2 separate regions of the Homo sapiens genome follow, and region 1 is linked to region 2. Evidence: fine-mapped expression QTL. A gene starts in region 2. The other region holds a variant in brackets. All regions are shown on one strand. Distances are between the middles of the regions. Region 1 overlaps SLC25A24 (solute carrier family 25 member 24). Region 2 holds the start of SLC25A24 (solute carrier family 25 member 24).

The links. PIP is the estimated chance that this variant, and not a neighbour inherited with it, causes the effect.
Region 1: its variant is fine-mapped to the expression of SLC25A24 in monocytes after R848 (Quach 2016, PIP 0.95).

What each region holds. Positions count from the first base shown.
Region 1 is chr1:108,151,209-108,154,120 of GRCh38, forward strand. The region is part of intron 6 of SLC25A24 (solute carrier family 25 member 24); the gene reads right to left. Among named protein-coding and RNA genes, the nearest start is that of SLC25A24, 48 kb to the right of the region's middle. The variant G/C (reference allele first, on the strand shown) is at 1,703.
Region 2 is chr1:108,199,077-108,201,988 of GRCh38, forward strand. SLC25A24 (solute carrier family 25 member 24) reads right to left here and starts at 1,267. Exons shown (of 10, transcript NM_013386.5): 1 at 880-1,267. The coding sequence starts at 1,062. RefSeq lists a silencer at 1,051-1,390 and an enhancer at 1,191-1,485.

The sequences.
Region 1 (2,912 bases), 48 kb before region 2:
ACAAACATACAAACAGAAAAAAAACAAAAAAACAAAAAAACAAATCCCCTCCACCCAACATCTTTCTTATCTATCACCCTCTCCCTCTTCTAGTTTCCTTCTCTTCACTGTCAAACTCCCTAAAAATGTGTCTCTACTGTCCAAGTTTCTTCACCTCCCATTCACTTTAAGCTCATTTCAGCATGGTTTCTCATTTCATTACTTCACAGAAGCATTTATACTAAGCTTACCTATCTCTGGGTTGAGAAATCCTAAAAGATATTCTTATTATATTCACTACCCAGTAGTACTGACCCCCATGAAACCGTTTCCTTCCACTGACTCCTATGCCATCCCTCTCTCTGGATTTTCTCCCATCCCTCGAGCTATTTCTTCTCAGTGTCCTTTGCAAGTTTCTTCTTTTACTTCTCCCTTTGGACTTATTCCTAGAATTCTTCTCATTTATAAGCTCTTCTTGAGTGATCCTGCCCATTCCAATGGCTCAACTCAGCAACAACCTCTCTATCAAAGATCTCTCTCTTAATGGCTAGCTGATATACCCAATTGCTTACTGGACAGCTCCCTGTACATGTCCCACACATCTCAAACTCAGCATGCACAAAATGGAACCTGATATTGTATTCTCTTTGAATGCAGTCACTCAAGTTAGAAATTAGAATATCATTCTTGACTCTTCTCTTTCTCACCTCCATATCCAGTCAGTCAGTGAGTTCTGTTGATTCTACTTCCAAAATATTTCTCAGTTCATTCCCTTCTCCATTCCTTAAAGACATCACCTTATACTGGTGTTCATCATTTCTTACCTCAATTATTTAAATATTCTCCCTGCCTCTAGTCTACCTCACTCTCCCCCAACAATGTCTCCACTCTTTTTTCAGGTTGATATTCCTTAAATGTGAATGTACTCATTTCACTTCCCTATATAAGATGCTACAATAGCCCCTACCATATTCAGAATAAAATCCAGACTCCTATTACATTTGGCCCCTGTTTATCTGTCCAGCTCTTTCATCATTATCTTTCCGGAAACACACTCCACCAGTCTTGAGGCACAGTGAACCACCTTCAGTCTCTTCAGTGAGTGATGCCTTCTTGTGCCTACATTTCTGTCCACATGCTGCTCCTTCTGTTTCCAATCCTTATCTTCCCCTTTATTTATTTATTTATTTTTTTTTTGAGACAAGGTCTCATTCTATCACCCAGGCTAGATTGCAATGGTGTGATCCCAGCTCACTGCAACCTCTGCCTCTCGAGCTCAAGTGATCCTCCCACCTCAGCATCCTGAGTACAGGCACACACCCCCACGCCCAACTAATTTTTATATTTTTTGTAGAAATGGGGTTTTGCCACGTTGCCCAGGCTGGTCTTGAACTCCTGGGCTCAAGCAAACTACCTCCTAAAGTGCTGGGATTAGAGGCGTGAGCCACCACGCCCGGCTCCCCTTCATCTTAATGGCTTGAGATTGAGGCAAGCTTGAGCTCTAATTCCAGTCTGTCAGTTCTGTCTTTTCATTTACTTAATAAGGGTTTCCTGGCACTGGGCAAGGTGCTAAGAATACAAGTAGCTACTGCCTAAGGAAGCTCACAGTCTCACAAAGCAGATAAGTACAGAGAACGTCAGAATTCAATGTGAAAGTGCTGTAACAAAAGGAAACTAGAACAGAAGGCTTCCCAGAGGAACTAACTCCTGAGTAAGTACTAAA[G/C]GGCATTTCCCACCATATGACATATAGAAAGAGGAAGGGTGTCTGTCTGTGTTGCTGGAGCAGGGTCAGGAGACAGGGAGTAGCAGAAAGATGACCATGCATGGTGGCCATATTGAGTGGGAGGCACTCCTGGGTCATGCAAGCAGAGATGCTGAAACACACAGTACACAGGTAGACCTACAGTGTTGAGATAAAGAGGAAGATGTTGGAGTGGAAAGCAGTCAGTACAGAGATGGCAGCTGAAACCACAAGAACACTACCCCACACTATTACACTGTCAATGATACAATGACACTACTATGGTAATGACAACCCACAGAGAACACAGGTTTACCCCATACTGATGATGTGTTTGACAGAGCTACATACCAGGTTGAAAAGATCTTTTTCTTAGTTTCCTAAAGTACTAGCTATTCAAGGAACAAAATCTATCTGAATCTAAAAGTGACCTAGTTACATACTCTGGGAAATTTGAGAATATATACAGCCTATTTACCCCGAAGTAATTTACAATCCACTGGGAAAACAATGGGTTTTCCATCATCCAATGAAAAATGGGATATTCTGCAATTCAGCACTCGAGGGAGGCTGGACAGGGGAGGAACTGGCTTTGATTGAGATGCTTAGTATATGCTTGTCACAGGAAGGTGGCTTTTAGAGAGCCCCGAGGGATGAATGGACCTTCAGCAGGAGGAGAGAAAACAGCACCATAGGTCCAGAGCCCATAAGAACACTACACCACACTGTGTAGACAGCTTTCTCTTCATGTCTAAGAAAGTTAGTGTGCAGAAATCACAATACTATAAAGAGGTCTCAGGAAGGAGCTTGGGTGGACAGAAGCAGAGGATGCCTGTTGGTGGTATCCAAGGTAAGAATCTGACAAATGGCATAAAGCAAAATGTGCATATTTGCTTGCAATACCCATGGACTTTTTCAAAAATACCAAACTTCTTGCATACTGAAATAACTGCATTGAGTATTTATTTATTTTAGGCTGTGGCTTTCCTATCATAAAATCCAAGTATGTGGTCAGAATAACCTAAGGGTATCTCAAACATTAGCCCTTAATAATCATGATTTGAATCTTCAAACCTTCATATAAGGAAAATAGCCTTCCCAAGGATAGGTTCTAATTAAAATCCTGGAGACTAGATTTTCTTTAATTTTTTTTTTTTTTTTGCTTCTCTATTTCCTAGGCAAAGAAAAGGAT
Region 2 (2,912 bases):
CAGGCAGTTTCAAAAAAAATTGTAACTTACTAAATCTGACTCTAGAAGAAACAGTAAACTGAAGAGGCCTATAACTACCAAAGACATTAAAAGAGAAGTGAAATATAACTATATAACAGTTGTTGGCCCTCATAGTAACCTAATCACTTTCCCTCTTTGGATAAGAGAATGCCAGTGTCAGGGAACGCTTCAACAGGGTTGGAGAAGTTCCACATATCTCCACCCTACTAAAGGGGCAGAAGTTCAGGGGCACAGTTAAGATGACTCAGAGAAAATGAAATTGCTCAGTCGCAGGTCAAGTCAACCCTTCAGATCAATTTATGTACCTAGGGCATTAACCTAGGAATGTCTTAAACAATGGAATGCCGCCATTCCTTCTCAACAGGAAGTGGGGGAAACACGCGATTGGTTTTCAAACAGTTTTCAAACAGTAGACAATACACATAGCTGCTGTAACAAAGCAGCTTCGAAAGAGATCGAATGTGTGCGCCTTTATACAAAACTTGGGACCCACTGAAGTCTGACAGCTAAAACGGATTACATGTCTGCAAGGTATTAAAACAGAAAACAAAGAACCTGGGATGGATTCAGGACAAAAGTGTCTTAAAAATTTAACAGTGCCCGTGGGCCAGAGTGTCCACAACACTCATTTTATCTGGACAAATACCAGTAGACTTTCGTATTATGACCCACTTCTGTTACCGGGGTCGCCGGTCGCGGCCCCACGCCCGAGTTTCTGAAGCCACCGGAGCGCTGGGCGCCACAGTTCCTCCTTCCTCTCCTGGCAACGCCTCAAGCCGCCGCCCTCCTCGGTCCTCGCAGTGTCCCCAGCGCCCGCAGCCCTCCCTACGCTCAGGCGGCGCCCCGGCGGCGACCCACCTCCTCGGCGTCCTGGCCCAGAGGGATGCCCAGGTTCCTGAGCCCCTCCTGCAGCTCGCCGATGTCCACCACTCCGTCCCCATTGCGGTCCAGTGCCTGGAAGAGGGTCTCGTAGCGCGTCGGCTGCTCCGCGTCCTGGCAGGCCGCGGTGGGCAGCACGAAGTCCCGCAGCCAGCGCAACATGGTCCCAGAGGCGCAGGCGGCCTGGCCGAGGAAGTCACGGGAGATCGAGGGCTGCGGGGCGAGACCGGGACCAGCGCGAGGCCGGGCTGGGCGGGGCGCGCGGCGCAACAGCGTTTGGGGCGCCGTCGGGGTTGCGGCTGCGGCGCGCAGGGCGCAGGGCGCAGGAGCGGAGACCCCACCCGAGCCCGCGCGGAGCGCAGGGTGTGGCCGTCCCGCCGCTGCTGGGGAGGAGCTCGCCGCGCTGGCCTCGGCGGCACTGGCCGGGCCCGCCTCCAGAGAGCCGGAAGTGAGGGAGCTGGGAGCTGGGTCTCGGGAGGTGCTGTGCGGACCCGGGGTCGACCTCTGCCCAGTTGCCAGTCCCGCTGTCAGCATGCGGGTCCGAGGAAGAGGCCCCCAGCAGGTCCAGGGCTGCAGCGTCAGCGCGTCGGTGGCTTGGGAGCGGGGTCTTGAAGACTGGTTACTCCACTTAAAGACCCTCTCGGGCCGGAGCCTTGGCGGTCAGCCCAGAGCTGCTTCTCTCTGCCTGGAAACTGGGCCATGGAGGGCATTGTCTCTCACGGATGTCTAATTTTTTCGTGGTTGCACACCTGGGATGGCGATTCTGCTTTAAAAAGCAGAGAGTTAAATCCTAAAGCATCTATTGGAGCAATTATAAAACAAAAAGGAGAAACTCCTGGATTTGTTGCAGAAAAGATCAACAGCCATCTGCGTGGGCAACGGGGAAAAGAAGGACTAGTTTGGTAGGCAGCTTAGCTAGGATTTGCCCGTGATTAAGCGTATAGAGTGTCTGCCAGCTGCACTTATCAGAAAAAACCACAGCGCCCTCCTCCTTCTCAAGATGGGTGCAGTTCCGAGGTTTGGAGCTTATTACTCAGGCAAGACAGAACTTATTACTGCCTAGCATGGAATAACGGAAGGAACATTGGACTTAACAGAGAAAGTACCTAATCCTTCAGGTGTGACATAGCGTCTCCGGGTAGTCTCTCATCAGTAAAATGAGAATATAAATATCTGCCTTCACAACAAAGTTGTATATTAGGTGTGAAAGGTCTTAATTCTCTAAGGCGCCAATCAAATGAGATATCATTAATTGTAATAATCCTGTTCATTCACAGCTGCGTAAGAGGAACTATTGTTGTACTGCTGTTTGCAGAAAAGAAGATACCTCTGTACTTGTAAATTAGGGTGTCTCACATCTTCTGAATCACTACACAGAAATCAGTTCCAACAACAGCCAGGAACTCAGACCCTGAACTTACCTCTCCTCATATCATTTTGTATGTTTAAGATATGTATGAATCTAGAATTTGTAAATTAAGGGCTGCCTGCTTAGTAAAATCATCTTGAAACTGATTTATCTTTTTATATTACTTCCAACTTCCAGTCTTATTAAGAATCATTGCCTTCCTTTGGAACTGCCTTCAAACTTCAAATTTTCTCTGTCCTTGAAAACCTCTTTTAATCTCTACTCTGAATACTCTGTACTTGAAGAGAGGTTGCTTGAACTAGTCATCTTACACTTACATGCTTTCATTTTACTTTTTATTTATTTCTTTTTTTTTTTTTTTTTTCTTTGAGACAGTCTAGCTCTGTCGCCCAGGCTGGAATGCAGTGGCACAATCTCAACTCACTGCAACCTCCGCCTCCTGGGTTCAAGCTATTCTCCTGCCTCAGCCTCCTGAGTAGCTGGGGCTACAGGCTATTTTACTTTTTTAAAAAAGTAATACTTAGAAAAATTACCTGTCAGCGTTTTTGCTGAGAAAATTATCTTCACACCAAAACTTTTACTTGAGGGTTTATAGCAGTTCTATTCATAACTGTCAAGCGCAGAAACAAAATGTTCTTTAACG